Linked DNA regions of Homo sapiens. The protein of the gene in region 1 purifies or fractionates together with the protein of each later gene. This does not show direct contact. Each region holds a gene or a part of one and is shown in the gene's direction. Other genes may lie near its edges.

What was found.
Region 2: the proteins of SNX16 (region 1) and PALM purify together in Homo sapiens (affinity purification with mass spectrometry; one large-scale study listed by BioGRID and IntAct). This does not show direct contact.
Region 3: the proteins of SNX16 (region 1) and TBC1D2B purify together in Homo sapiens (affinity purification with mass spectrometry; one large-scale study listed by BioGRID and IntAct). This does not show direct contact.

Annotation. Positions count from the first base shown.
Region 1 is NC_000008.11:81,801,622-81,804,323, reverse strand, and holds part of SNX16 (sorting nexin-16), read left to right. Parts: intron 1-1,095; coding exon 1,096-1,232; intron 1,233-1,824; coding exon 1,825-1,944; intron 1,945-2,702. UniProt on the Homo sapiens protein: May be involved in several stages of intracellular trafficking. Plays a role in protein transport from early to late endosomes. Plays a role in protein transport to the lysosome. Promotes degradation of EGFR after EGF signaling.
Region 2 is NC_000019.10:707,557-711,759, forward strand, and holds the start of PALM (paralemmin-1), read left to right. Parts: upstream 1-1,378; 5' UTR 1,379-1,590; coding exon 1,591-1,595; intron 1,596-3,405; exon of another isoform or gene 3,406-3,631; coding exon of another isoform or gene 3,632-3,642; intron 3,643-4,203. UniProt on the Homo sapiens protein: Involved in plasma membrane dynamics and cell process formation. Isoform 1 and isoform 2 are necessary for axonal and dendritic filopodia induction, for dendritic spine maturation and synapse formation in a palmitoylation-dependent manner.
Region 3 is NC_000015.10:78,022,192-78,025,842, reverse strand, and holds part of TBC1D2B (TBC1 domain family member 2B), read left to right. Parts: intron 1-345; coding exon 346-584; intron 585-1,303; coding exon 1,304-1,687; intron 1,688-3,651. UniProt on the Homo sapiens protein: GTPase-activating protein that plays a role in the early steps of endocytosis.

The DNA of each region.
Region 1 (2,702 bases):
TTTCATCCTACTCTTTCTTTTGGGATTCAGTTAACTACTTCTTAAAGTACATAATTTAATAGTTCTTTCAGTGAATGTGTATTGGTAATGCTTAGATCTTTGATGTTCAAATGTCTTTTAATTTTGTTTCATTCTTGAAGTATGATTTAACTGAGTGTAGAATTCTACCTTGATAGTTATTTTTCTCAGTGCTTTAAAGTGTTTTCCACTGCCTTTGACATAGACTGTTTTATGACATCTACTCCCAGTCCCCTACTGTCTTACAATTTTATAGTAAACTGATTTGTCTTCCTGGTGTTTTAGAGATCTATTTGATTTTGATATTTGCAACTTCAGTATCTTGTATTTATATATATATATTTGTTTTTATTTGTCTTCCTTATGATACATTGTTTTTCCCAAAATCCATATGAGGCTTTTTAGATTAGATTCTTCAGGTGAGACTTTACCTCGCCCACCTAGAAACCAGATTGAGACAAACAATCTTTCTTGATGTTTTTCTGTGTTGTTGAGTGACTTTTATTAATAGGCTCTTTAGGGTCTTTGCTTTATTCCTGAATCTATCACTTTTTGTCACTTACTTCCCAAAATGTACCTGACTCCTCATTTCTTGTACCATCCTGGTACTGCAACCCAAGTGTCAAGATTACCAAAATGCTGTTACAGTAGTATGTCTACTGAGCTAATACAAATGGCATCAACCACAGTTGATATTTTTTAAGTGTAATCATGTATGACTAGGCAAAAGTAGATTAAAGAGAGTAAAAACTAAAGCAGTAGTTGCCAATTATTTTTTATCCCAGTTCTACACTAGAGGGATATCACATACTCACTTCAGGCACACTAGCTTACTACTGTAAGTCTTAAGAAAAAGAACTTGTAGTTATGTCCCCCTGGTGGATGGGAACTAAAGTTAAGATACCAGTGACCTAAAAAGATGAGGGTAGAGAACAAATCATTTGGAGTTTCATACTATTATTTTGATTATCTGTGTTCTTTGACTCTTCAATAATGCTCTTGAGAAAGATACTGCATTTGTAATTAATTGTATTCTTTTTCTGCATGTGTTTAGTTTTGTTTGTTGTTTTTTTTAAGGCATTCTGTGAAACTTTAGAAGAGACAAACTACCGCTTACAGAAAGAACTACTTGAAAAACAAAAGGAGATGGAATCACTAAAGAAACTGCTCAGTGAGAAGCAACTTCATATAGACACTTTAGAGAACAGAATCAGGTGTGTTGTGATACTTGCATTTCTACTCTGACTAATTCAACCCTTAATACTCTGGGCTAACTGCCCTTTATATTTTAATATGATTTAGGAATTTTCTGATTCTGAAAGTTGTAGGCTTTTGGCATACTTCATTGGGAAAATTATGCTTTATTTAGCATAATTTTGCTAAATAAATTTTGAACATTGAAGGATGGGAAACATCAGGAAAATAAGCCACTAACTGTTCAACAAGGTAAACATTATTCATTTTAATCATTGTTAAATCATTATTAAATAAATAATCATTATTAAATGGAATACCATTATTTTATTTAAGTGACATCTTAGTTTCTAGGCATTTATGCCAGCTTTTCACATATGAAAGCTCTGGTTTGCCATCTCATCAGCATATCTTGAATTGATACTAAAGTCATTTTAAATTAATCATAGCTACTGATTTTCTCTGTTGACTTCCAAAGTGAGCTATTTATTAGCTATGTAACTACATTAAGGCTTAACAGCTAAAGACTGCTATAGCTACCTGTATTCACAACATTAAACATATGCCTGTTTTGTTCATAGAAAATAACTTGTTGCTATAACATACTTTTAGAACATTGTCTTTAGAACCTGAAGAATCACTGGATGTGTCAGAAACAGAAGGTGAACAGATCCTAAAGGTGGAGTCCTCTGCACTTGAGGTTGATCAAGATGTCCTGGATGAAGAATCTAGGTATATAATATTTCATTTATGATAGCTTAATTCTTGAATAATTGGAGGAAAGTGATTCTAATACTCTATAGAGTATTTTTTTATGAACTCAGTGTTACTGTATCACGAATCTGCTAAGCAAACAGAGAATGAATTGGAAATATTTTAGGCTTTTCCTAAAATATTTAAAAATAAAAACACTTTAAAAATAAAAAGTGTCTTTGACATCAGGATGTAAGTTTTCTCATTACTTACTTTAGAGCTGTGTCTGCATTAACTGGCCTCTGACTCAGGTAATTAACTAATTTTTTAAATATTGACAGATTACCTTAATCTCCCTCAATATCACCCTTTTTCCATTGAAAAAGTAGGCTACTATAATATAATAGCAAACCACCCTTCTTACCTAATAGGAATGATGAAAAGGTAATGAATTTAAAAGCACATAGAATTTTTATTGCATACAAATCCAAGGTAATTGTTAATAGTTTAGTGGTAATGGTCAACTATAATTCTGAGAAAAATTTTATGTTGATAAAGGTAATTACCAAGTAGATTTTTATTGGTAAATGGTAGTTTGGAGAGCTGAGTTTAAAAACCTATCTCCAAAGGTCTTACTTGGCAATGACAACTTAAATATATCAAATTTCTGATTGAATGTTTAAATACTCTTACATTAAATACTTTTACACTAAGTATGTAAATTTTCTATAAGGTAGAAGATTTTTAAAGGTAATAGTGAAAATGAAATAATAGCATGCATCCAGTCCCATCATTGA
Region 2 (4,203 bases), on another chromosome or scaffold:
TACATATTGTCTCTGGCTACTTTCACTCTGCGATGGCAGAGCAGAGTCATTGCCGCAGAGACTGTGGCCTGCAATGCTGAAAATATTTACTCTCTGGCCCTTTACAGAAAAAGTTTGCCAAACCCTGAGCTAGTGTGTGCTGGGCCCTGTGCCAAGCCCTTTGTGTGTGCTCACTCAGTTAACCCTCCCACAGCCTTAAGGGTGGGGGCAGGGGGGTGGGGGGGAATAAGGCTCCGAGAGGTTGAGAAACAGACCCAGGGTCACACAGCTTGGAGATGGGTGAGCTGGGAATCAGACAGACCCGGGACCCCTGATATTCTTTAGGATCTTAGCTTTGTTAACCTTTGCTAATTTATCTTATTGTCTTAAATGCTAAAATGAATACACATTCATTGTAAAAAGGGAGGAATAAAGAAAAGGTGTTGACGGCCTTCTTCAGCCTGGGGTACATCCTGCCGTATCTTTCTCCACAGCTCATCCGGGGCTACTTTCCTTTAAATCTACAGCCATTCAGCAAACATCGGCAGAGGAGAACCGTTTTATAAGAAAACTAAGAAGTTTGGAAGAATCTTTCCTTCCTGCCCACCCTGGACCCCCATGAGTAGGTGTGCTGGGGCTGGTCTGCAGTGTTCTCACGGGAAACCAGGAAGCTGGGCCCAAGGCCTACATGTTGGGGAAGACAGGTCCTGCCTGTCTCCTGCTGTGGCTCCCCAGTGCTCTGAGGACAAAGCCTGAGCTCTCCCTGATTCTCCACCGTCCCTCTCACTCACTCTGGTCGTCTGGTCGCTGGGCCTTTAGTGAGTGTGCCATGGGGGCCCTGGGGCCGATTAAATTCCAGCCCCGGGGACCAGGCTCAGCTCCCAGCCAGGGCACAGACAGATCAGCACCTGCGGTTGTCTCCACCCCAACCCCCGGCCTTTGCAGGCACAGCGCCCTCCACCAGATACTCCGGCAAAGGAGGCCTGGGGACCCTGCGAGCGGGGCCGGGGGTGCAGGGAGCTGTCAGCTCCTCGCAGCGGCCTCCCCAGGACCCCCCTATCCCCTCGCTCGCCCTGAAATGTGTGTCCCTCTCGGCGTCTGGGCTCTCGAGAAAGGCCTTTGCTTGTCTGACTTCGCGAGGGTCCCGGCTCTGGCCCAGGAGCTGGGGAGGGGCGGGACTTGGTGACAGCCGGGTCCCAGCACCGCGCCCAGACCTAGGCCCTTCTCAGGGGTGCCCCGGGGCGGGGCGCGCGGGGCGGGGGGCGGCGGCGGCGCAGCCGGCAGGAGGCGCAGCGCCCGCTCGCAGCGCGGGGAGGTGGGAGGGGAGCGGGGCGGGGAGCGGGGCGGGCGGGAGGGAGAGGGGAGCGCGCCGGAGACGCGCGCGCCCAGCCCACCCCCCGCGCCCGCCGCCGCCCGGACAATAAACAGCAGCTTTGCGCGGGGCGATGCCCGAGCCGGTGCCGCCGCCCCCGCGCCGCGCAGCCCCGGCCGCCAGGCCTTAGCCCGCCCCGGCCCCCGCCAGGCCGCGTCCCCCTCCCCTCCCCTCCCCCGCGCGCCACCCGCGCCCGCCCCCGCCCGGCACCGCGGACCCACCCGGACCTCGGCGGGGAGATGGAGTGAGTAGGCGCGCTCGGGCCGCGGGGCTGGGGGCCCGGAGCTCCGGGAGCCGGGGAGGGGGGAGGCCCCCTCTCTCGCGCCCCATTGGGGGCGTCGCTGCCCCCGCGAGGAGCAGGAGGCGGCGCGGGGCTGCTGGGGCCGCAGCGCAGCCGGGAAGAGACTCGGGCTGGGCCGCGCCTGCCGGGAGGCCTCCCCGCTCCCGGACCCCGGCTGCCCACCCACCGGCGCGTGGGGACCCGGGCAGCGGCGGCTCGGGCCAGTCCAGGACGCGGGGAGGGGGAGGCTCGCGTCTCCGCCCGCGCCCCGCCCGCGTCTCCAGGGCGAGCCTCGGCTCTCGGCCACCTGTGGGTGGCCCCGGGGAGATGGAGCGACCCCTCCCCAGATTGCACCGGTCCGGCCTCGCGCTCACGCACCCTTCCCCCGCCCCAGTCTGAGCGCACGGCTCCTGGCGCCCTGGACGCGCGCGCGGGCCGGTGCCCCCCACCCCCGCCCTTCCCAAGGGCCTCCAGGGGTGTCCTGAGCCCCCCGCCACTGCGCAGGTCCCGAGTTACCGCTGGAGGGAGAGGGGCTGCCCTCGGCTTCCCGGGTCTCTGGGGTGTGTGAGAAGGGAGAGGAACCGGCGTTTTCCAGCGGGGCGCCTGGGTGGGATACCCTCTCGGGGAAGTGTCTCGGAGCTGGGGCTCCACTGGTGTAGCTACAGGAGTGGGCTGGCCCTGGGCTGGGATCCCTGGACCCCCGCATGGCTGCGCCTGTGTGTGTGGGGGGGGGGTGGCCAGTGGAGGCACCGAGCGAGGGCGCGTGGTCATTTCGGACACCGGTCCCCTCCTCCCGGTGCTCGGGTGCCCCTCTGCCCCTCACTCCCACAGGTGGGCACTGCACGGGCAGGGGTCAGGAGGCTCCTCCTGGGGTCACCCACCTGCCCACTTCAGGACAGGGGAGCCAGCTGCCCTGCTGAGGCCCGGGTCCCCACCCCAGCCCGAGGACCGAAGACCGGATCTGGAGGCCGCCTGTGGCCCCCTGCCCTTCCCACTGGGCGTGTTTTCTAAGCCGCCAACTTTCCCCGGGGATTCACCCGTGACCCGCCACGCCCGCGGCTGGGTGGGGGCCGCTGCCTCCCTCCCTCCCTGGGAAAGCGAGACACCCAGTGTCCTCTGCTTTTGAAAACCCAGACAAAGGCCTGACCCCTCTCCCCGTCACCCCGCCCCGGGAGCTCAGCCAGGGGCTCAGGGGAGCCAGGGCCCAGACTTGCCTGCTCCACACCCCCACCCCCCAGCCTTGTTTATCTGCCCTGCTCGCCAGGCCCCGGAGGAGCCTCTGGGCCTCTGACAGCCAGGCCTGGGCAGGGTGTGGCTGTGGGGAGGGGGCTGCCTAGGAGGACGACGGAGATCTCCCTCCCAGAGGAGGGGTGTCAGCGAACACTCCGGGTCGGGCCCATTGTTTCCTTCCTGCCACCCCTTCCTTTCCCACGGGGGATACTGAGGCCCAGAGAGGAGCTGCTGCCCCCCCCCCACCCCCCCTCCATCACACAGCACCTGGGGCCGGGGGGCCTCGGTGCCTCCTGCTCTGCTCCACGGTTTCTCCGTCCTGGGTCAGAGGGTGGCCCACAGGTCCCCCATTGGGTCATCATTGCTTTTGGGGATGCAGACATGGGACAGGCACCCAGTGTTAACCGGCTGCTGTGAGCCGCCATTCGAGGACGACTCTCTCCCCGGTTCCCGGGCTGACAATGGGTGGGGACAGGCCCATCTGGTGCCGCCCGGCCTTGGACACCTGCCCCCTCGTTCTTCTCCCCGGCGGGCTTCAGGCACGAAGGCCCCGTCCGCTAGAACGTGATCGCTTGCCTCCTCCCGTTTCCACAGATTTTCCAGTCGAAGACACGGGAGCTGGCTGTGGTTTGTGGTGGTGCCCGTCTCGCTGGAAAGTTTCACAAATGAATTTAAGAATTTAAAGAATTTTAAATGTCATTCAAGAACAGGTTATTTTTTGTTAATGTGAGGATTTAAGGAGAACTAGCGGGTTGCTAACCACAGGGCCGATGCTGCCAAGGTGAGGAGAACGTCCAGGAAGGAGCTGGGGAGAATCTCTGCTTCGGAGAGAATCTCTGTGCTCTGGGAGGGTTTGTGTGGCCCCTGCGTGACACATGGTCTGGCTGGTAAAATAAAGATATTTTGGCCTGGAGCAGCCATTCTCCAGCACCCACAGCCCTGTCCTGGGTACAGGCAAGGCTCAAACCCCCGGGATAGGGAGGAGAACAGACTTGGGCCTGGACAGATGGTCAAGACCGGCCCAGACTCCTCCCTGCTCGCAGACCTGGAAATTTTCAATAGGAAAGTCTCCGTTGGGTGCTAACTGGGTCCTTAACGCTCCTTCACACTTGCTAATCCCCCTTTTTAATGAGAGGCAGAGCCTGTTAAAAGGCAACAGTACCTAGTGATAATTGAATTTAATAACAAGCTTTTACTTCCGTTGTATCTGTTTCTTCCTCCATGTTTCCGCTGTCTTGTTTGTGGCGGTGGCTTCTGGTTTGCCCAGTGTTGATCACAATATAATGTTTCTTTCTAAAACAAGGCGATTTGATTTACACTGGAGTGGTTTTGAAGGCAAGGA
Region 3 (3,651 bases), on another chromosome or scaffold:
TTTAAAATACAAGTTTTGGCCGGGCACGGTGGCTCACGCCTGTAATCCCAACACTTCGGGAGGCCGAGGAGGAAGGATCACAACGTCAGGAGATCAAGACCATCCTGGCTAACACAGTGAAACCTCATCTCTACTGAAAATACAAAAAATTAGCCAGGCATGGTGGCGGGTGCTTGTAGTCCCAGCTACTCGGGAGGCTGAGGCAGGAGAATGGCATGAACCTGGGAGGCGGAGCTTACAGTGAGCCGACATTGCGCCACTGCACTCCAGCCTGGGCGACAGACCGACACTCCGTCTCAAAAATAATAATAATAATAATAAAATACAAGTTTTATTTTTATGTAGGAGTAACTGGCTCAGGATTCCCCTTTGATTTTGGACGTAACCCCTACAAAGGAAAGCGCCCTTTGAAAGACATAATTGGGTCGTACAAAAATCGTCACAGCAGTGGTGACCCTTCAAGTGAAGGCACATCAGGCAGTGGCAGCGTCAGCATCAGGAAGCCGGCCTCCGAAATGCAACTGCAGGTCCAGAGCCAGCAGGAAGAGCTGGAACAGTTAAAGAAAGACCTGTCCAGTCAGAAGGTAACTTCTTCTTCTGGCTTCTGTCTTACCCCACCTCAGCAGGCCAAGGACGGGAGGAGTAAAGCCCAATTTATGTTTCCCTGAGTCTTTCTGGGGACAGCTTTGTTTCCCAGGAGTTGCTTTTCCCCTGGAGGTTTCATATTGCCATGGCGGTCATCTAGGCACAGCTGCTGTGCTTGATCATTGGTTCAGAGGTGTTTGCATTTGCAAGGAGAGTGAAGATCTCTCAAAGGAGGACAGAGGAGGTTGCTGTCTGCACCACAGCCCAGTCCTGCCCCTGAGGTTGAATCTCCCTAAACACAGTTTCAGCCCAGAGTTCTTTAACAGTCATTAAAAAGAGTTTCTGCATCCTATTCAACAATGGTTTCTTGAACTAATCAGATCTAATTACATTTAATTGTTCAGCAGTTCAGTGACTCTTAGAGCACAGGTTTTTTAATACCCATGACATTTACTGGATACCATTGCTAATTATAGTGGACATGTCCATTATTTCCTGTTTCCTATTACTGTTCTCTACAGACAGTCTTTATGGAGTAAATATTTTTTTCCTCTATTTTTGAGATCCTTCAAGAGGAAGTTCAGTATTAAAATGTTTCCAGTAAAGTTTCTACATTTCCTCAAACTCTGTCGATTACTCCATGTAATGTCATGATTTCTGCTTTTCCTCCTCTCCTTGCTCTTTTCACCCTTCACTCCATTCTCCTTTTGGCTCCCAGGAGCTTGTTCGACTGCTCCAGCAGACAGTCCGGTCATCCCAGTATGACAAGTATTTCACAAGCAGCCGGCTCTGTGAGGGGGTCCCAAAGGACACGCTCGAGCTTCTGCACCAAAAGGATGATCAGATTCTGGGCCTTACCAGCCAGCTGGAGAGGTTCAGCTTGGAGAAGGAGAGTCTTCAGCAGGAAGTAAGGACGCTGAAGAGCAAAGTGGGCGAGCTCAACGAGCAGCTGGGAATGCTCATGGAGACCATCCAAGCCAAGGACGAGGTCATCATCAAGCTCAGCGAGGGCGAGGGCAACGGGCCTCCTCCCACCGTGGCGCCCAGCTCCCCTTCGGTTGTGCCTGTTGCCAGGGACCAGCTGGAACTGGACAGGCTGAAAGTAAGAGTGGGGCAGGGGCTCTGGTGATTGGCATGAGAGACCACCGATGTCACCCCAGAGGCCTGGCCTCCGTGAGCTGATTTGGTGTGACGGCAGAACAGCTGCACACTTATTTTTTTTCCCCACAAGTGTAACAGGACTTACCATCAAATAATCATTAATCTTCTGTGGAGCTTCCTTGGAAAAGGAAACTCTTGCTGTTGCTTTGAACAGTTTCAAATCCTTCCCCTCCCTTGTTTTCAGGCAACTAAGACTTCTCTTTCTATATATACCACCCTTAGTACTTCATTATCCCTTGTATCATATGGAGGCTGTTTCTTGCCTCTCCTGTGTGCATGAAATCACACACAAACTTAATTTGCACAGCTTGCTGCAGGACCTAGTGGATGCCTGGTTTGGGAGCATTGCTCCTAACAGCTAGTATGGGGTTAGCTGGGGAAGCGGACTCCAGCTTCCAAGTAGGCCTGGGAAGAGGGCCTGTTCAGAGTCAGTGCCCCCAGCACCCAAGATGGGAGGGTCCTGACACTCAGTAGGAAGGACAGCTTTCCTCCCCGTGTCCTTCTCTGGGCTAGCCCTTAGGCTGGGAGGCTATTGCCTGAACAGAAGTGACCCTCCTAGTCATGCCTGGGGTGGTGACCAGCTGATGCGGTAGGAGGAACACACAGCATTTGTGAGAGGTGGGGGCAGCCTGCATTTCTCTTCTTGCCTGTAGAGAAGCCTAATGATTCAGAGGGGAGGCCACAGGGAGGATCATAACATTCTTGCTGCCACCGGTTCTTGAGACTTTGTGGGAGAGGTTTTAGGTGGACAAGTGGCCCCCAGGACATGGGGCATCAAGTATAGCCTGTTTGACCCCAGCAGACCCCAGACATGTCTGTAGCTACTGGTCTCACCTAGCCCCAAGGCGTCCCTCACCTGGCCACCCTCATCTTGCAAATAATGTGTCTCCGAGGGTGTTTGGCTCTGGATGGAGCTTGTCCTTGGAGGGCAGAGGTTTGCTGCTGTCCAGGTTGTTACTGAGTATTTGCTTCATGCCTAGCAGTACCTTTCAGGCGATGCATTGAGTGAGGGAATGATAGGCATGCTAGGGACCCTGAAGATAATTCCAAAACAGAAGTAAAAACACCGGAATCATGGCAGCATGGCTGGAATATGTACATGGTCCCCATAGTGACCACTTCTCACTGACAACACCCATTGGATATGTGAGGCCCAGAGGATTTATGAATGAGAAAATCCAAAACAACAAGAAAACCTCTGGTCTCAATACTTTACACTTATATCTACTATTTAAAAAAAAAAAAGTTGGCTGTGCATAGTGGCTCACGCCTGTGATAGCAGCACTTTGGGTGACTGAGGTGGGCACATTGCTTGAGCCCAGGAATTTGAGACCAGTGTAGGCAACATAGTGAAACCCCCGTCTCTATACAAAAAAAAAAATGGCCAGGCATGGTGGCTTGCACTTGTGGTCCCAACTACTCAAGAGGCTGAAGTGGGAGGATTGCTTGAGCCCTGGAAAGCAGAGCAAGGCTGCAGTGAGCGGAGATCCTCACACCACACTCCAGCCTGGATGACAAAGTGAGACCCCGTTGCAAGAAAAAAAAAATAGGCTTTGTGGTTTTTGTTTGTTTGTTTTTTTAATAAGAGGTCTTGGTTAGCATTGCCAATGGAAGTTGGGTTTTTTAATGTACACAACATTGAATATACATGACCCTAAATATATACCCATCAATAATACACATTTTGGGATTACTTAATGAAAACAGAAATTTTTATTTTTATGTATTTATTTTTTTTGAGACAGTGTCTTGCTCTTTTGCCCAGGCTGGAATGCAGTAGTGCAATCTCAGCTCACTGCAGCCTTAACCTCCCTGGCTCAAGAAATCCTCCAGCCTCAGCCTCCTGAGTAGCTGGGACTAGAGGCATATGTCACCACACCCAGCTCATTTTTATATTTTTAGTAG